Linked DNA regions of Homo sapiens: regions 1, 2 and 3 are each linked to region 4. The links come from fine-mapping of genetic effects on gene expression. A gene starts in region 4. Each other region holds a variant in brackets. All regions are shown on one strand. Distances are between the middles of the regions.

Region 1 (5,151 bases), 220 kb after region 4:
TCCCATATAAATTATTCAGTCTTGAGTATGTCTTTATCAGCAGAATGAAAATGGACTAATACAGTAAATTGGTACCAGTAGAGTAGGGTGCTGCTGAAAAGATACCTGAAAATGTGGAAGCGACTTTGGAACTGGGTAACAGGCAGAAGTTGAAATGGTTTGGAGGGCTTAGAAGAAGACAGGAAAATGTGGGAAAGTTTGAAACTCCCTAGAGACTTGTTGAATGGCTTTGAACAAGATGCTAATAATGATATGGACAATGAAATCCAGGCTAAGGTGGTCTCAGATGGAGATGAGGAACTTCTTGGGAACTGGAGCAAAGGTGACTCTTGTTATATTTTAGCAAAGGGACTGGCAGCATTTTGCCCCATCCTAGAGATTTGTGGAACTTTGAACTTGAGAGAGATGATTTAGGGTATCTGGCAGAATAAATTTCTAAGCAACAAAGCATTCAAGAGGTGACTTGAGTGCTGTTAAAGGCATTCAGTTTTAAAAGGGAAACAGAGCATAAAAGTTTGTAAAATTTGCAGCCTGACAATGCGATAGAAAAGAAAATCCCGCCGGGCGCGGTGGCTCACGCCTGTAATCCCAGCACTTTGGGAGGCCGAGGCGGGTGGATCATGAGGTCGGGAGATCGAGACCATCCTGGCTAACAAGGTGAAACCCCGTCTCTACTAAAAATACAAAAAATTAGCCGGGCGCGGTGGCGGGCGCCTGTAGTCCCAGCTACTCGGGAGGCTGAGGCAGGAGAATGGCGTGAACCCGGGAAGCGGAGCTTGCAGTGAGCCGAGATTGCGCCACTGCAGTCCGCAGTCCGGCCTGGGCGACAGAGCGAGACTCCGTCTCAAAAAAAAAAAAAAAAAAAAAAAAAAAGAAAAGAAAATCCCATTTTCTGAGGAGAAAGTCAAGCTGGCTGCAGAAATTTACTTAAGTAATGGGGAGCCAACTGTTAATCCCCCGAGACCATGGGGAAAATGTCTTCAGGGCATGTCATAGGTCTTCATGGCAGCCCCTTCCCATCATAAGCCTGGAGGCCTAGGAGGTAAAAATGGTTTCGTGGGCTGGGTCCAGGGTCCCCATGCTGTGAGTAGCCTAGGGATTTGGTGCCCTGTGTCCCAGCTGCTCTAGCTGTGGCTGAAAGGGGCCAACATAGAGCTCAGGCTGTGGCTTCAGAGGGTGCAAGCCTCAAGCCTTGGCAGCTTCCATGTGGTATTGAACCTGCGGGTGTACAGAAGTCAAGAACTGGGGTTTGGGAACCTCCACCCAGATTTCAGAGGATGTATGGAAACGCCTGGATGCCCAGGCAGAAGTTTGCTGCAGGGGCAGGGCCCTCATGGAAAACCTCTGCTAGGGAAGTGCAGCAGGGAAATGTGGGGTCAGAGACCCCACACAGAGTCTCTACTGGGGCACAGCCTAGTGGAGTTATGAGAAGAGGGCCACTGTCCTCCAGACCCCAGAATGGTAGATCCACCAACAGTTTTCACCATGCACCTGGAAAAGCCACAGACACTCATTGCCAGACCATGAAAGCAGCCGGGAGGCTGTACCGCACAAAACCACAGGGGTGGAGCTGCCCAAGACCATGGGAGCCCATCTCTTGCATCAGCATGACCTGGATGTGACACGTGGAGTCAAAGAAGGTCATTTTGGACCTTTAAGATTTGACTGCTGTCCAGGCACAGTGGCTCATGCCTGTAATCCCAGCACTTTGGGAGGCTGAGGCAGGCGGATCACCTGAGGTCAGGAGTTTGAGACCAGCCTGGCCAACATGGTGAAACTCTATCTCTACTAAAAGTACAAAATTAGCCAGTCGTGGTGGCATGCACCTGTAGTTTCAGCTACTCAGGAGGCCGAGGCAGGAGAGTCACTTGAACCTGGGAGGCAGAGGTTGCAGTGAGCCAAGATCGCACCGTTGCACTCCAGCCTGGGCAAGAAGAGCAAATCTCTGTCTCAAAAAAAAAAAAAAAAAAAAAAATGGACTCTCCTGCTAGATTTTGGATTTGCATGGGGCTTGTAGGCCCTTTGTTTTGGCCAATTTCTCCCATTTAGAATGCCTGTATTTACCCAATGCCTGTACCCCCTTCGTGTCTAGGAAGTGACTAACTTGCTTTTGATTTTACAGGCTCATAGGCAGAAAGGACTGGTCTTGTTTCAGATGAGACTTTGGAATGTGGACTTTTAAGTTAATGCTGAAATGAATTAAGACTTTGGGGGGACTGTTGGGAAGGCATGGTTGGTTTTGAAGTGTGGAGATTTGGGAGGGGCCAGGGACAGAATGATATGGTTTGGCTGTGTCCCCACCCAGATCTCATCTTGAATTCCCATGTGTTGTGGGAGGGACCCAGTGGGAGGTAATTGAATCATGGGAGCAGGTCTTTCCCATGCTGTTCTCATGGTAGGGAATAAGTCTCATGAGATCTGATGGTTTTATAATGGGGTGTTTCCCTACACAAGCTTTCTTCTCTTGTCTACCTCCATGTGAGACATGCCTTTCACCTTCTGCTATGGTTGTGAGGCCTCCACAGCCACGTGGAACTGTAAGTCCATTAAACCTCTTTCTT[C/T]TGTGAATTGCCCAGTCTCGGGTATGTCTTTATTAGCAGCATGAAAATGGACTAATACAGGAATCTACTACAGGAATAAGTTGAGAAATGATGAGGACCTATCCTAAGACATGGGAATGGAGAAGAGGAAAGAAAAATAAGAGATTTAAAAAATGTAGGCTACACAATTGTGTGTGTGAGAGAGAGTATTGTGGGATGGCTGTGTTCCTGATTGGACTGTAAATGGGTCATCCAATTTATTAAGATTAGAGAATACAGGAGAAGGAAAAGTATGGGGAAGGGAGATTGTGTATTTAGTATTAGACATACTGACTTTCGAGTAGCTATGGCACAATTAAGTGGACTTGTTCAACAGGCATGTCAGGAATGTGGGAGAAAAATCTTGGATGAAATTTTGGAAGACGCCAGGCACGGTGGCTCAAACCTATAATTCTAGCACTTTGGGAGGCCGAGGCAGGTGGGTCACCTGAGGTCAGTGGTTTGAGACCATCTTGGCTAACATGGTGAAATCCCATCTCTACCAAAAATACAAAAAACTTAGCCGGGCGTGGTGGCAGGCGCCTGTAGTCCCAGCTACTCTGGAAGCTGAGGCAGGAGAATGGCGTGAACCCAGGAGGTGGAGTTTGCAGTGAGCGGAGATCGTGCCACTGCACTCCCGCCTGGGCGACAGAATGAGACTCCGTCTCAAAAAAAAAAAAAGAAAAAAGAAAAAAATTAGCGCTGGTCATGGTGGCACATGCCTGTAATCCCCACTATTCAGGAGGCTGAGGCGGGAGAATCGCTTGAACCCGGGAGGCAGAGTTTGCAGTGAGCAGAGATTGCACCCTTGCACCCCAGCCTAGGGGAGAGAGTGAGACTCTGTTTCAAAAAAAAAAAAAAAAAAAGTAAAAAAAAAAAAAGAGGCTGGGTGCGGTGGCTCACGCCTGTAATCCCAGCACTTTGAGAGGCCGAGGTGGGCGGATCACGAGGTCAGGAGATCAAGACCATCCTGGCTAACACCGTGAAATTCCGTCTCTACTACAAATACAAAAAAAATTAGCCGGGCTTGGTGGTGGGCGCCTGTAGTCCCAGCTACTCTGGAGGCTGAGGCAGGAGAATGGCGTGAAGCCGGGACGCAGAGCTTGCAGTGAGCTGAGATCGCGCCACTGTACTCCAGCCTGGGCGACAGAGTGAGACTCCGTCTCAAAAAAAAAAAAAAAAAAAAATTAAAAAAAAAATTTTGGAAGATACTAGTATATGTGTTAGTTAAAGCCATGAATTTTGATGAGATCACCTTGGGGGGGAAATATACAATGGGAATAACTAAGGACTAAGAATGGATCCCCAACATTTTAAAGGGTAACGAGAGATAGTAGGACAATAGAAGTAGGAGGAAACCCAATAGAATTGAGTCATAAGAAGCCAGCTTTGGCTGCATCCCATGTTTTGCATAATTTTTATTATTTAGTTTAAGACATAGTTTGTTTTGTTTTGTTTTGTTTTTAAAGACATTTATTCAGCATCACAATCAGACTATTACATTTAGCAATCAACAGCATGGGTGCCAAAAAAAAAAAACTACATTAAAACCCTTTGTTGGAATGCTTTACACTTTTCACAGAACACAAACTAAAATAACCTGTTATAGAGTTAGTCACAAATAACAGTCCTCGAGTTTTTTGCCCATACTCATCAGTATTTGTCTAAAATATGTCTTCTTTGTAGCACCTAGGCCCTGCTACCACTGTGCTTGGCTGAGTTCACAAATCTGTTGTAACCTGTAGCTTCCCTGTCACTTCTCTGGATCTCCTCTCCTGCTAAGCTTTGTTTCCTAATTAAAATCTGCCACTGTCATAGCTACTGCTGCTACTGGAACCTCCATAGCCACCTTGGTTTTGTGGTTTGACGAAGTATTGGCCTCCACCACCACAGGGGACAGAACTTCTGCCTCCAAAGTTTCCTCCCTTCGTGGGTCCAAAATTTGAAGACTGATTGTTGTAATTGCCAAAATCATTGTAGCTTCCACTACCTCCAAAACTGCTTCCACTACCACCACCAAAGCTGCCTCCACCTCCGTTGTTATAGCTATTATAGCTGCCACTCCCACCATAGCCACTGCCCTGGCTTCCATAACCCTGTCCAACACTTCCATAGCCTCTGCTTCCTCCGGAGTAACCAGGGCCACCTCCTCCATAACCACCATCATTACCAAACCCATTATAGCCATCCCCACTGCCACCATATCCATCACCACCACAGCTGCCACCAAAGCCATCATGACCACTGAAGTTTCCTCCGTGACCAAAGTTGTCATTCCCACTGAAACCACCTCCATGACCACCACCAAAGTTTCCAGAACTACTTTGACCTCTTTGGCTGGATGAAGCCCTAGCCATCTCTTGGTCTGACAGGGCTTTCCTAACTTCACAGTTGTGGCCATTCACAGTATGCTATTTCTGAATGACAGTTTTATCCATGGAGTTATGATTGTCAAAGGTTACAAAGGCAAAGCCTCTTTTCTTGCCACTGCCTCAGTCATGATTTCAATCACTTCATTTTTTCCATACTGTTCAAAATAATCTCTTAGGTGATGTTCTTCAGTGTCTTCTTT
Region 2 (5,151 bases), 110 kb before region 4:
GGGAGGAAAAAAGGCGGGGCATGGTGGCTCATGCCTGTAATCCCAACATATTGAAAGGCCCAGGCGGAAGTATCACGTCAACAGCAGCCTGGACAACAGAGCGAGACCCTGTCTCTATATTTAAAAAGAAAAAAAAAAAGCATTTGGAGATAACAAGGGGTTAAAGGGCAAGCATTTTTGGAGGAAATCTATGGTTCAGGCAAGGTTCCTCACCTAAAAGTTGTACCAGATTAGGATGCTTGATTTCCTTCATTACTGCAGCTTCTTTCAGGAATTCTTCTACCTCCATGGTATCTTCCTAGAAAAAGGGAAAGGTAAGAAAGAAGAAAACGAGAGGGACAAACCCTCAACTTAAAATCATTTCATTCATCTCACAATCATAAAGCTTCAGCTTTAAAAGTAAAAACTATCTTTTGAATATTTTAGCATATTACAAGATATAATTATTATTTTAATTTAATTTATTTTTTTGAGACACGGTCTCGCTCTGTTACCCAGGTTGGGGTGAAGTGGTGTGATCTCACTGCAACCTCCGCTTCCTGGGCTCAAGCGATTCTCCTGGCTCAGCCTCCCAAGTAGCTGGGATTACAGGCATGCACGACCATGCCTGGCTACTTTTTGTATTTTTAGTAGAGACGGGGTTTTGCAATGTTGGCCAGGATGCTCTCCTGACCTCAGGTGATTCGCCCACCTGAGCTCCCCAAATTGCTGGGATTACAGGTGTGAGCCACCACGCCCAGCTGAAATAATTATTATTTTAAGAAGTCCAACTTAGAAAGAAAAATGCCCTGGAGTAAAAATTAGCAGGAGGAGCAAAATTCAGCAATCGTGTCCTATAATCAACTGAAACACAGGAGCCCTGTATTGGATAGTTCAGTTCTCTCATAGTTTACTTCTCCAGATATCTCAGGCTTTGAATGACGAGACAGAGCACTTAGCTGCTTACATACTTATCTTCTTGCTTAGATCATAATCTTCTTAGAGAGCAAGGCCTTATATATTGCTTCACACTCAGAATATGCTTAAGAAACAGAACTGACTACTACTTAATAGCTAAAGAATAGCCCTTATAAGTGATACACCAGAGACAGTTACTGAGGCTCTGGGAGAATCAAGTGAGTGAAAACCTTATAATTTGATACTGGGATGTTTAAAGGAGACATATAGTAGTACTACGAAAAAGATTTCTGTTAATATTAAGAAGTGATCTAACTGCAAAGAGACAGGAGGAACAAGAACAAGGGAGAGAAAGGACAGAACAAGAAAGAGGCCCATGACTCTCAGACAAGAATTCTGTCCAGCAGGGGTCGTTCTCAGGAAGCAAAAGAGCTTATTTTGCTTTTATAACTTTTAATTTGCTTCTAACCTCCCACTAAGATCTACATCAACAGCCTCCAGAGACAGACCTTTCCCACATGTGGGTTTCACTGCATTGCAGTGAATAATCTACCTCTGCATTGTCAGCAATGGCACTAGGGTTAATCATCTCAATTTGCTGATGTGCTTGGCACTAGTGGGTGGAAAGTGTTCCAAAGTTAAAGAAGGGCATGCTGATATTTCCAAGTGATTGAGCACAAAAGAAAAAGATGCCTGAAAACTGTAATTCTCAGCAACCCACCTTCAATGTTTTCACAGCAACTGTAAGGCTGTATTTCTTCCAGACGCCAACGTAAACCTCTCCATACTGACCGCCCCCAAGTTTGTGCTTCATGGTAATATCTGTTCGCTCCATTTCCCATTTGTCGTGGATGGGGGACACACCATAGACTGTAGGCTTATTACACTTGGGTGCTGGGTAGTGTAATGTTGTCACCAGCCCATCAGCCACTGTGGAGTGATGGTGTACAAGCTCTGCCAAGGTGCTGAAGCGGCTCTCAGCAGTCACATACACCTGGTAAGAAAAGGAGAAAAGCTAAACAACTTGAAAAGAGATTAAGAATTTTTTTTTTTTTTTTTTTTTTTTTTTTGAGATGGAGTCTTGTTCTGTCACCCAGGCTGGAGTGCACTGGCGCGATCTCGGCTCACTGCAAGCTCCGCCTCCCGGGTTCACGCCATTCTCCTGCCTCAGCCTCTCTGAGTAGGTGGGACTATAGGCGCCCGCCACCATGCCCGGCTAATTTTTTGTATTTTTAGTAGAGATGGGGTTTCACCGTGTTCTTGATCTCCTGACCTCGTGATCTGCCGGCCTCAGCCTCCCAAAGTGCTGGGATTACAAGCATGAGCCACCGCTCCCGGCCTAGGAATTCTTTTTTAAAGCCCATATTTCACTGGCCTGAAGATATAGATAGAAGGCTATCTT[TA/T]AAAAAAAAAAAAAAAAAAAAAATATTCTGCAGACAGGGTCTCACTATTGCCCAGGCAGGTCTCAAACGCCAGCCTCAAGCAATCCTCCTGCCTGGGCCTCCCAAGGTGCTGAGATTACAGACTGGGCCAGTATACCCAGCAAGAGTTTATCTTAATTGAGGTAAATAAAAAAGTTAAATGATGATTGCAAGGGTAAACACAGAACTTCAGTTTAATCTTATTTAATCTGCCTTTCCTATTCTTCCTAAATTAGTCTTGGGAAAAACCTTCCAAGATCTCTCTCTGGATAATCAAGCTCATTGGTCTTCAAATATATATATATTTTCAAATATATATATACTCAAATTATGTATTTTTTCAAATATATATTTCTTTTTCTTTTTTTCTTTTTTTTGAGACAGAGTCTCACTCTGTTGCCCAGGCTGGAGTGCAGTGTCATGACCTCAGCTCACTGCAACCTCCGCCTCCTGGGTTCAAGTGATTCTCCTGCCTCAGCCTCCCAAGTACCTGGGATTACAGGCATGCGCCATCACGCCTGGCTAATTTTTTTCTTTGTATTTTTAGTAGAGATGGGGTTTCACCATGTTAGCCAGGCTGGTCAGGAACTCCTAACCTCAAGTGATCTGCCTGCCTCAGTCTCCCAAATTGCTGGGATTACAGGTGTGAACTACCACGCCCGGCCAGTCTTCAAATATTTTTAAGCCACAAGACTATGGACTCAACTACAGAAGATACGTAAAGAAGAGATACCCTGATCAAAGTAGGCAAGCAAGGACTTGGCCTCTTGTAGAAATTTACAAAATATCACCTTAATCTTGTAAAAAACATAACTTGAAAACCACTGATTTAGATTTTTTTGGTAAGAGTATTCAAATATCTCATAATTTTAATTATGACGTGCAGTTGAGTGTCTAGGCCATTAAAGAAAGAGCCACAATTTACCGGTGGCCAGGAGCAGTGGCTCACACCTGCAATCCCAGCACTTTGGGAGGCTGAGGTGGGCAGGTCACTTGAGGTCAAGAGTTGAGACCAGCTTGGCCATCATGGTGAAACCTCCTCTCTACTAAAAATACAAAAATTAGCCAGGCTTGGTGGTGCGTGCCTGCAGTCCCAGCTACTTGGGAGGCTGAGGTGGGAGGATTGCTTGAACCTGGGAGGTGGAGGTTGCAGTGAGCTGAGATCACGCCACTGCATTCTAGAGTGGGTGACAGAGCAAGACTCCATCTAAAAAAAAGAAAAGAGCCACACTGGATTTCACAGAATTGCTTACAAAATAGTTGTTAATTTGCTAAGCAATAAGAAATGTAAAGTAAGAGGGAATTCTCTGGACTTCTCTCCCAAGGGAGCCTTAATTTTTATGTATTTTTGAGAAATAAGGGTCTCACTCGGTTGCCCGGCCTGGAGTGCAGTGACACAATCATGACTCACTGCAGCCTTGACCTCCCAGGTTCAGGTGATCCTCCTGCCTCAGCTTCCCGAGTAGCTAGGACCACAGACATATGCCACCATGCCCAGCTAATTTTTAAAATTTTTTGTAGAGATGAGGTTTCACTATATTCCTCAAGCTGGTCTTGAACTCCTGGGCTCAAGTGATCTACCCTCCTTGGCCTCCCCAAGTGTTGGGATTACAGGCATAGGCCACCATGCCTAGCCTGTTATTTATTTTTTTTAAAGACGCTTTTGGTCGGGCGCAGTGGCTCACGCCTGTAATCCCAGCACTTTGGGAGGCCAAGGCGGGTGGATCACGAGGTCAGGAGATCGAGACCATCCTGGCTATCATGGTGAAACACCGTCTCTACTAAAAATACAAAAAATTAGCCGGGCGTGGTGGTGGGCGCCTGTAGTCCCAGCTATTGAGGAGGCTGAGGCAGGAGAACGGCGTGAACCTGGGAGGCGGAACTTGCAGTAAGCCGAGATCGCGCCACTGCACTCCAGCCGGGGCGACACAGCAAGACTCCATCTCAAAAGAAAAAAAAAAAAAGAAGCTTTTGTTTTAGTGTATAAAGTATCAATTCATAAACAGAAAATTGATAATTTTTACAAAGTAAACTCACCCATGTAAACATCACCCACACCAAGAATTATAACATGATCAGCACCCCAGAAGCCTCCCTTATGCTCTCCAGCTATTTGCCCTTGCAGAGATAGCCACTATGCTGACTTCTAACATCTTAGATTAGCTTCTGCTTTTTTTTTTTTTTTTTTTTTTGAGACAGAGTCTCGCTCTGTTGCCCAGGCTGGAGTGCAGTGGCACGATCTTGGCTCACTACAACCTCCACCTCCCAGGTTCAACCAATTCTCCTGCCTCAGCCTCCTGAGTAACTGGGATTACAGTCGCGTGCCACCATGCCAGGCCAATTTTTGTATTTGTAGTAGAGACAGGGTTTCACCATGTTTGTGGGGCTGACATCCTGACCTCCAGTGATGAGGCCCACCTCGGCCTCCCAAAGTGCTGGGATTACGGGTGTGAGCCACCATGCCTGGCCTCTGCTTCTGAACTATACACAAACAGAATCACACAATATGTATTGTTTTATGTCTGCTTTTTTCCACCCAACTTTTAAAAATTGCATTATATTTCAGATACCATAAAATTCATCATTTTAAGGTATACCATTTCATGGTTTTTAGCATATTCTCAAAGTTGTCCAACCATCATGACTATCTAACTCTAGAACATTCTCATTACCTCATATCTATTAGGAGTCCTTCCCACTCCCCACATCCTCATCCCCTGGCTAATACTAATCCTTCAACTTTGCTGAAGTTGTTGAGTCAGCTAACACTCATCTAGAGTAGGGGCCAGCAAACTCTTCATAAGGGCCAGATAATAAATATTTTAGGCTGTGG
Region 3 (5,151 bases), 430 kb after region 4:
AACATAACCTTTTTGTCCCTTCCCCCTACCATGTTACTGATATAGTATATCAAACTTTCCATCAGATCACTATTCAATGTTTACATTACTGTGACTATGTAAATGCTCTTCACGGCTTGGCCAAGTATTATAGTACACTGTTACACCTTTTTTTCCCTTGCATAACTTTTTTTCATGTTAATATTTCTTTCCTTTTATAAATTAACACATAGTAAAATTGACTGTTTTGGTGTACTATTCTATCAACTTTAATAAATGTGTAGATTTGTGTAACCAACACTGCAATTGGGATGCAGAACAGCTCCATCATCTAAAATAACTCCCTTGTGCTACTGCTTTGTAATCACAGTCTCCCCACATCCCTAACCCCTAGCAACTGGTCTGGGGTCTGTTTTCTGTCACTCTAGTTTTACCTTTTCAGGACTGTCATGTAAGTAGAATCATATAGTATGTAACCTTTGGAGACTGGCTTCTTTCATTCAGTATATTTCTGTACCTTTGAGATTCATCCATGCTCTTGCATGTATCAATAATATGTTCTTTTCGATTGCTGAATAGTATTTTATAGGATAAATACACCACAGTTTGTATACCCATTCACCCATTGAAGGACATTTGGGTTGTTTCTAGTTTGGGGTATTTATGAATAGAGCTGCTATAAATATTCATGTACAGGTTTTTGTGTGAACATAAGCTTCATTTATCTACGGTAAATACCCAGGAGTAAGATTGCTGGGTCATGTGATAAGTGTATGTCAAACTTTTTTCCAGAGTGGCTGTACCATTTTGAATTTTCACCAGCAATAATATATGAGTTCCAGTTGCTCCATTTTCTTGTCAGCACTTGACATTGTCAGTAATTTTGCTTTAGCCATTTTAATAGGTGTGTAGTAGTATCACAGCATGATTTTAAATTCCAGTGATTAATGATGTTGAACATCTTTTCATGTGCTTAGTTGTCATCTATACACAATTCTTGGTGAAATTTCTGTTGAAGTCTTTTTCCCATTTTTTTGATTGGGTTGTTTTCTTACTCTTGAGTTTTGAGAGTTCTTTATATATTCAGGATACTAGTTCTTTGTCAAATAATGTGATTTTCAAAAATATTTTCTCACTTGTAGCTTGTCTTTTCATTCTCTTGATAGTGTCTTTCATACAGAAGTTTTTAATTTTGAAAAAACCTAACGTATCAACTTGTTTTCTATTATGGACAGTGTTTCCAGTATCAAGACATCTTGAGTTAATTTTAGTATAAGGCATGAAATTTAGGTTAGGTTTCATTTTGTTACATGTGGATGTCCAACTGATCCAGCATCCTTTGTTGACAAGACTATCCTATCTCCATTGAATTGTCTTTGAAGCCTTATCAAAAATCAATTGTCCATATTTCTGTAAGTCTATTTCTAGACTCTATATTCTTCTCCAGTGACCTATATGTTTGTCTCTTCATCACTACCACATTGTCTTGATTACTGTAGACTTACATAGTACCTCTTAAAATCAGGTAGTATGGGCTGGGCGCAGTGGCTCATGCCTATAATCCTAGCACTTTGGGAGGCCAAGGTGGGTGGATTACCTGAGGTCTGGAGTTCAGGACCAGCCTGGCCAACATGGCAAAACCCTGTCTCTACTAAACAATACAAAAACTAGCCGAGTGTGGTGGTGGGCACCTGTAATCCCAGCTACTTAGGAGACTGAGACAGGAGAATTGCTTGAACCCGGAAGACAGAGGGAGGTTGCAGTGAGCTGGGATCACACCATTGCACTCCAGCCTGGACGACAAGAGCAAAACTCTGTCTCAAGAAAAAGAAAAAATCAGGTAGTATGATTCCTCCTATTTTATACTTTTTCAAAATTGTTTTTAATATTTTGGTTCCTTTTTCTTTCCTTGTAAATTTTAGAATCAGCTTATCTATACCTGAGATTTTGATTGGAGTTGTGTTATATATATAGATAATTTTGAGGAAAGTTGATGCTTTAGTCCATGAACATGGTGTATCTCCCCATTTATTTAGGTTTTCTTTTATTTCTTCAACAGTGTTATAATTTTCAGTATACAGGATCTGTACATGTTCTGTTAATTTTATACCTAAGTATTTCACTTATTTTGAGAGCTATTATAAATGTTTTCCCCAGTTTTTGTATTTTAATTGCTAGTATATAGAAATTGGTGTTTTTTTGAACTACCTAACTTCACTTATCCATTCTAGGGGGTGTTTTGTTGGTTTCTTTTGTGATTTTCTGTATCAGTAATGTTGTCTGCGTTAGTACATGCAAATGGATATCTGTTTTCATGAGATATTGGTCTGTAGTTTTCTTGTATTGTCTTTGGTTTTTATACTGGATAATCCTGGCCTCATAAAATAAATCTGAATATATTGCCCGCTTTGCTGTTTTCTGGGAAAGATTATGTAGAATTGTATTTCCTTTTTATTTATTTTTGTTGTTTGTGTGGATCTTTATTTTCTTAGTTTTTTTAATTAAGTAAAATTGCATATATGGTGTACAACATGTTTCAATATATGTATACACTGTAGCATGTATAAGTCAAGCTATTTAGC[A/G]TATGCATTACCTCACATATTTGTTATTTTTTTGTGGTGAAAACACTTAAAATCTACTCTCCTGGCAATTTTTAAGTATACAATATGTCACTATTAACTGTAGTTACCAAGATGTATAGCAGATCTCTTGAACTTACTCCTCCTGTCTACTGAAATTTTGTGTCCTTTGACCAACATCTGCCCAATCCCTCCACCTCCTAGCCTCTGGTAACTACTATTTCACTCTGCTTTTTTAGATTCCACATGTAAGTGAGATCATGTGTTATTCCTCTTTCTGTATCTGGCTTCTTTCATGTAACATAATGTCCTCCTGGTTCATCCATTTTGTCACAAATTACAAGATTTCCTTCTTTTTAAAGGTTGAATATTGTTACATTGTGTATATATACCACGTTTTCTTTATTTGTTTATTGATGTACACTTTGTACAGGTTGATACTGTCCTAATAAAATGAGTTGGAAGTATTCGCTCATCTATTTTCTGGAAAAGGTTACATAAAATCAGGTTATTTTTCAGGGAGAGAAGTTAATTTTTAAAATGTTTGATATTACCTTATAAAACTATCTGGGCCTGGAGACTTTTTTCCAGAAGAATTTAAATTATAAAATCAATTGCTTTAGTAGATATAAGATTATTCAAATCAGCTATTTTATCTTAGTCTTGGTATTTTGTGGTTTTTGAGGAAGTGACTCATTTAAGTTATCAAATGAGGAATTGGTTCACTTCATCTAAGTTGTCAACTATATGTATAACATTGTTTATAGTATTCCCTTATTATCCTTTTGTTATCTGCAGGGTCTGCAATGATAATCTCCTATTACATTTCTGATATTGGCAGTTTGTCTTCTCCCCTTTTCATTAGTCTTACTAGAGATTTATCCATTTTATTGAACTTCCCATTCCTAGAGAATAAGCTTTTGGTGTCACTGGTTTTATCTCTTGTCTTTCTGTTTTCAAGTTCGTTGATTTCTTTCTTTTATTTTCTTTGGGTTTATTTTTGCTTTCTTTTTCTATTTCTTTAAGATGGAAGTTTACTTTATTGATTTGAGACCTTTCTTTTCTAATATAAGCATTGATGCTATGAGTCTCTACATATCACTTTAGCTGCATTTCACAAATTTGAACATATTGTATTTTCATTTTCATTCAGTTCAAATATTTTATAGTTTATTTTGAGATATTATCTTTCACCCATGAATTATTTGGAAGTGTGTTGTTTAATTTCCAAGTGTTTGGAAATTTTCATGTTAACTTCCTGTTACGTCTTTCCAGTATAGTATGGTCTTAGAACACAGTATGATTTCAGTTCTTTAAATTTGTTAAGGTTTGTTTTGTCAACACAGGATGTGGTCTAGCTTGGTAAATGTCCATGTGTCTTTGAAAAAAACATGTATTCTGTTGTTTGGTGGAGTTTCTATAAATGTCAGATCCAATTGATTAGTGGTATTGTTCAGTTCTTCTGATCCTTGCTATCTACCGATTTTGTTGATTACTGAGAAGAACACTGAAGTCTGTAACTGTAATCTTGGATTTTGTCTATTTCTCCTTTCATTCTGTCAGTTTTTCTGTTGTGCATTTTGAAGCTCTATTGTTAGGTGTTATCCATTTAGGATTCTTACATGTCTTGGTGAATTGACCCTTTTATCATTATGAAATGTCTTTATTCACAATTACTTTTTTTGCACTGAAGTGTACATAATGCACTGATATCAGTATAGCCATTCCAGTTTTCGTGTGTGTGTGTGTGTGTGTGTGTGTGTGTGTGTGTGTGTGCGCGCGCTTGCCTGGTATATTTTTTTCCATCCTTCTAACCTACCTGTGTCATTATATTTGAAGTAAGTTTCTTGAGACAGCATATAGTTTGATTATTTATTTATTTATTTAATTTATTTTTTTGAGACGGAGTTTTGCTCTTGTTTCCCAGGCTGGAGTGCAATGGCATGATCTCAGCTCACCACAACCTCCACCTCTTGGGTTCAAGCAATTCTCCTGCCTCAGCCTCCTGAGTAGCTGGGATTACAGGTGTGCGCCCCATGCCCGGCTAATTTTGTATTTTTAATAGAGATGGGATTTCTCCATGTTGGTCAGGCTGGTCTTGAACTCCCGACCTCAGATGATCTGCCCACCTTGGCCTCCCAAAGTGCTGGGATTACAGGCATGAGCCACTGTGCTCAGCCTTGTTTGATTATTTTTTAATCCACTCTGACAATCTGAATTTTAATTAGTATGGTTTGGACTATTTATGTTTAATGTGATTATATATATGTTTTTATTTTAGATCTGCCATTTTATTTTTCTGTTTGTTCCCCTGATTTTCATTCATCTGCCTCCTCTTTCTTGCCTTCTCTTAGGTTATTTGAACATTTTTTAGTATTCCATTTTATCTACTATGGTTTTTTTTTTTTTTTTTTTTTTTTTTGAGACAGAGTCTTGCTCTGTTGCCCAGGCTGGAGTGCAGTGGCACAATCTCGGCTCACTGCAAGCTCTGCCTCTCAGGTTCACGCCATTCTCCTGCCTCAGCCTCCCGAGTAGCTGGGACTCCAGGCACCCACCAGCACACCTGGCTAATTTTTTTTTATTTTCAGTAGAG
Region 4 (5,151 bases):
TATCACCTTCATAAAGTGTTCATATACCCGAAAGAGACACTCAAGCACATCTTCAATAGGAGACATGTGGCCAGGCGCAGTGCCTCACGCCTGTAATCCCAGCACTTTGGGAGGCTGTGGCGGGTGGATCATGAGGTCAGGCGTTCGAGACCAGCCTGGCCAACATAGAGAAACCCCACCCTACTAAAAACACAAAAAATTAGCCGGGTGTGGTGGCGGGCGCCTGTAATCCCAGCTACTCCGAGGCTGAGGCAGGAGAATCGCTTGAACCTGGGAGGCAGAGGTTGCAGTGAGCCAAGATCACGCCACTGCACTCCAGCCTGGGCGACAGAATGAGACTCCGTCTCCAAAAAAAAAAAAAAAAAAAAAAGAGTTTGGGCCAGGAACGGTGGTGGCTCACACCCGTAATCCCAGCACTTTGAGAGGCCAAGGCAGGCAGATTACCTGATGTCAGGAGTATATGACAAAATCCCACCACCACCAAAAATACAAAAATTAGCCGGGCGTGGTGGTGCACACCTGCAGTTCCAGCTACTCGGGAGGCTGAGGCAGGAGAATCACTTGAACCCGGGAGGCAGAGATTGCAGTGAGCCGACATCCCGCCATTGCACTCCATCATGGGGACCAAAGCGAGACTCTGTCTCAAAAAAAACAAAAACAAAAACAAAACAAAAAAACAAGACAAAAAAAGTTTGGAGACAACTATTCTAAAAATACATTGACAATGAGATCAAAATAATAGGTTTCAGACTACAGGGAGCATACATACATGTATGTATGTATATGGGCACACGCACACACTACAAAGGAAAACTTGTTCATATCCTGACTGACGTCCTAACCATGCCCACCAACCTCTAGCCCTTGCCAGCAATCTCAGAATTGTGTGTCCTACTCTGAAGCATAGTACAGAGGCTTTGGCAAAGCCTTTCATTTCTAGTAAAAACGAAATACAAAACAAAATAAACCACAAAAGCATGTCAAAAGTGATAAGATGATGCTAACTTCATCTTCCCTACAGAAAAGCATTTGACACTGTCCACAGTTCACTATCCTGACACTGCTCATCACCTAACGTAAACACATACCTTGTACTCCACAATCTCCTGAAATTCAGTTCCCATTTCCCAATCCCTTAGGATACAACCCATTTCCCCTTCACTAACGACGGGTTTATGCTCCCACCTCTGGGACTGAGCTAATACTGCCCTTCATCCTTCCCTCTCCTGAAGCTGCCATTCACTTTCTTTCTGCAGCCGCATAGTCCCGTCCCAGAGTAGAGGACAGACCATCCAGGGTCCCCAAACCCACTTCTCTTTCCTTCTCCGCCCCCGGGATCTGCCAGCCAGGCTAGAGACGCGAGGGGGGAGGGGTGTGACTCGCCTCCCAGGACTGGACCAGATGGCAGCGGATTCCGCCCCCACTCTCAGGCACCTTCCACCCTCCGACCCCTCGGGCAGCCCGTCCGCCACCCACCCCGCCCCGACCCCACCCCCGGCCTCCCCCACGCTCTCATGCCGGCTCCCAGACACACTCACCATGCTGGGTGAAGATATTGAAGCCGGTCTCTGTGGTGCGCCCCGCCGGGTCCCGCCTGCGGCCGGAGGGCCTGGCTGCACTGCTGCCCCGGATCCCGCGGGGCTGAGGCTGCTGGAGCCCCGGAGCTTCCCCGACGCGGCCCACCTGCTGCCCCATCCCTGCTCTCGCGTACTCCCGCGCCCCCGCCGACCCCTGGTCACATTCCTCCTCGGCTCCGGCCTCGGGCTCCTGGCGCTGCTCCGGTCTCTCCCTCCCAGCCCAGGCCCTGGCCCTGAGTGGCTGGGCCACCGGCGGCTCCGCACCCGGCCTCCTCACGGCAGCCGCCGCGCTGCCTCCAGGCGACTCACAGATTCTGCTTTTCCCTCCTCCTGTCGCGGCTCCGCGCCCCCAACGCCGCCGCCGCCGCCGCCGCCACCGCCGCCGCCATCTTTAAACCACCGAGCGCTGGGAAAGCGTGGGACAGAGCGTCTCCCGCCCCCCGCCCCCCGCCCCCCGCCCGCCAGTCACCTCCGCCGCGGGGAAGGAGGGCTTCCCGGCTGCCGCCCCGCCCTGCCGCGCCGCGCCCCCCGTCCCCGCCCCCGCCTCCTCGCAGGGTGGGTCCCCCAGTGCCCACCTCATTTGCCGGCCACCGCTGCTTGAGGTCTTTCGTCCTCCGCGTCCTGTCGCCGCACCTCGGCGTCCCCCCCCTCAATCCGCCTCAGCCGACCCCCTCCCGCGTTCGGCTCCACACGCTACCGCCTTTGGGGTTGGTCGGTCTCCGGCCTTCCCCATCCCACCTCCACCTGTCAAATGAGTGAGTCGAGGGCTCAGTGCCACCGCGTGCGCAGCTCAGGTGCAGGCACAGGTGGGGCAGAAAAGCACAAGGCATTTATTTGGTCCTTGCCATCCAGTTAAGGAGCTCTAAAATACCCAGGGGGATCTCTTTTAAACACCCTTGTCAGCAGCAGGCCTCCAGTAAAAATTAAAATGGTATAAAATTTACAAGAAGAGAGTAAAATGCTACCTTATTTGATTTTAATTTTTGGAGATTATTTCATGATGTTAAATCGCACTGGCCTGGATTGTGTGCCTTCTATAGTCTCATTGGGGACGCAATTGTAGCCCCATTCCTCATATTATATTACCATGAATTCCTCTTGAACTCCTTTACCATCTCACCATATGTGAGTTTCTGTTTCCTTACAATGCCTGACAGTAAAGTTAATCTTCCCACTGGCATCCTTTATACACTGTGCACGTGGTCAGGTCTTCTTTTGATGACAAAGGAGAAAAAATATATATCTTTGACCCTGTTTCTGAGTCAGAACTTACTCATTTTAGCTTATGCAGTCTAAAGAGAGTGAATGAGGCAGAAAAGAAGCGTTTTATACATACACATATACTATATACAATTGACTCGCCATCCCCCTCTCCCACTGTGTTTACTTGCATCTTAATTCAATTTTTTTTAATTCTCAAATCTTGATCATTCTCCTGTTATTCTTTTGGCTTCCCAATTTGCTTTATAAAAAGTATCAGTTAATGGAGGTACTACACTGAAATTTTGCTTAAATTAGACAGGACGGGAGCCACTGCAAAGAAGGAACAAAACAACCACTGGAAATGTAGGGTTGGGAGAAGAGGTGGATGAAGCTCTCCTTTGCATATCTTTCCTGAACCAGGTTGACCTTAGATGAACCATCCACTGACGTAGATATTGCCTGTTGTAAAAGCACTATGAAATTATTCCATTGCCATCTAGGGTGTAGCCAGAAATAACTGAAATTAACTCCAAAATGGGAACGGAAACACTATGTGTAAACACTGGATAAAATATGAACTTTCCATTTGGATTAAAGTTTCCCTGTGTTTAAAATACCTGTCTTTTCTTCTAATTCCCAGTGTTTGCAACTACTGAAAAAAATTCATTCGAAAGGGATAAAGATGTCACAGAGCCGGAATTTGGTTTACTGTTTGATTTTTATTATGGGAGAAAATTTTAATTTGGGGATAATGGTTTGGTTTCTCTGCTAATTCATGCATACTATATAAAGATAGATGAATATATGGGTTGAACATCTCAAATCTGAAAATCCAAAATGCTGCAAAATTCGAAATTTTTTGAGCACCAATATGATGCCAGAGGTGGAACATTTCACGTAAGTACTTAACATAAACTTTGTTTCATGCACAAAATTTTTAAAATATTGTATTAAATTGCATTCAAGCTATGTGTATAAAGGTGTATATGAAACATAAATGAATTTTGTGTTTAGACTTGGGTCGCATGCCCAAGATATCTCATTATGTGTGTGTAAATATTCCCAAATCTGAAACACTTGTGGTCCGAACATTTCTGATAAGGGCTGCTCAGCCTGCAGTAGAGTGCAGTGGCTAAGGGCAGGGGCTCTGAAGCCAGACTGCTTGGGTTCATAACTTGGCCCTGATACTTATGGACTATTTGATCTGGGCAAAGTACATAACCTTTTTGTGTCTCAGTACATTATCTGTAAACTGATGATGATAACAAATAGTATCTACCTTATAGGAATATTGTGAAAATTAAATTAGTCAATATATATGTATAGTACTTAAAACAGTATTTGGCATATAACTGGTGTCATATATGCATATACTATTAATACAAAAAACATAATGGTTTTAGGTTTTACAAGCCTAACTTTTTCAAATTTTATATATATATATATATATAAATTTGAGCAATGGCCAGAGGCCAGCATAAAAGATCAGACACATCACCAACAGCAGTAAGGCGTGCTGAAGACACAGATACTCTTCATCCTCATCATCCTTATCACAGGAGCAACACCACTCTCTCCAGAAGGAAGGAGCTTGTGAGTAATGCCTCACCAATCCCTGACTTCACCAGTCTGCATTTCTAGGCTATTGCCATACTTTTTACAGTTTTACAGTATCTCTCATATCTACCTCTTCCCTTCATCTATATAAACAGCGTTATGTAAGACACAGTGTTAGCTTAGGCATCTCTGCGCTGGTTTCTCCCGCTACTAGCCCTTTCTTCCTAGAGATTCCTCACCTTTAGCACCAAGCAACTCACTCAAAGAAACTGCTTCTCTCATTGCTTTGACCACACTCTCCCTCTCATTCATTACGTACAAAGTCTTAAGTCTAAAATTTTCACCTAATGGGCCGGGCACAGTGGCTCATGTTTGTAATCCCAGCACTTTGGGAGGCCAAGGTGGGCGGATCACTTGAGGTCAGGAGTTTAAGACCAGTCAGGCCAATATGGTGAAACCCCGTCTCTACTAAAAATGCAAAAACTAGCCAATCGTGGGGGCGCGTGCCTGTAATCCCAGCTACTGGGGAACCTGAGGCAGGCGAATTGCTTGAGCCCAGGAGGCGGAAGTTGCAGTGACAGGAGATTGCGCCACTGCACCCCAGCCTAGGTGACAGAGGGAGTCTCTGTCTCAAAAATAAATAAATAAATAAATAAATAAACAAAATAAACGTTTCACCTAGTGTTTCGAAGTTATTTTCCAGGATAACTGGATTATAATTGCCTAATGTTCTTCCATCTCCTGTTCCTCCAACCTCCACCTTTCCTATGGCAGGCATACATACTTTATCCAATTAGCCTATTTCTGAGATGTA

Evidence for each region.
Region 1: its variant is fine-mapped to the expression of ABL2 in whole blood (TOPMed, PIP above 0.99).
Region 2: its variant is fine-mapped to the expression of ABL2 in neutrophils (BLUEPRINT, PIP 0.95).
Region 3: its variant is fine-mapped to the expression of ABL2 in whole blood (TOPMed, PIP 0.95).

The regions. Positions count from the first base shown.
Region 1 is chr1:179,451,849-179,456,999 of GRCh38, forward strand. All of the region lies in intron 16 of AXDND1 (axonemal dynein light chain domain containing 1), which reads left to right. It also overlaps the pseudogene HNRNPA1P54. Among named protein-coding and RNA genes, the nearest start is that of AXDND1, 88 kb to the left of the region's middle. The variant C/T (reference allele first, on the strand shown) is at 2,562.
Region 2 is chr1:179,119,977-179,125,127 of GRCh38, forward strand. ABL2 (ABL proto-oncogene 2, non-receptor tyrosine kinase) reads right to left here. Exons shown (of 12, transcript NM_007314.4): 5 at 1,619-1,891; 6 at 214-298. Among named protein-coding and RNA genes, the nearest start is that of TOR3A, 40 kb to the left of the region's middle. The variant TA/T (reference allele first, on the strand shown) is at 2,300.
Region 3 is chr1:179,655,258-179,660,408 of GRCh38, forward strand. The region is part of intron 14 of TDRD5 (tudor domain containing 5); the gene reads left to right. Among named protein-coding and RNA genes, the nearest start is that of TDRD5, 66 kb to the left of the region's middle. The variant A/G (reference allele first, on the strand shown) is at 2,562.
Region 4 is chr1:179,227,703-179,232,853 of GRCh38, forward strand. It overlaps ABL2 (ABL proto-oncogene 2, non-receptor tyrosine kinase), which reads right to left and starts at 1,975. Exons shown (of 12, transcript NM_007314.4): 1 at 1,539-1,975. The coding sequence starts at 1,695. RefSeq lists an enhancer at 1,269-2,025 and a silencer at 1,481-1,890.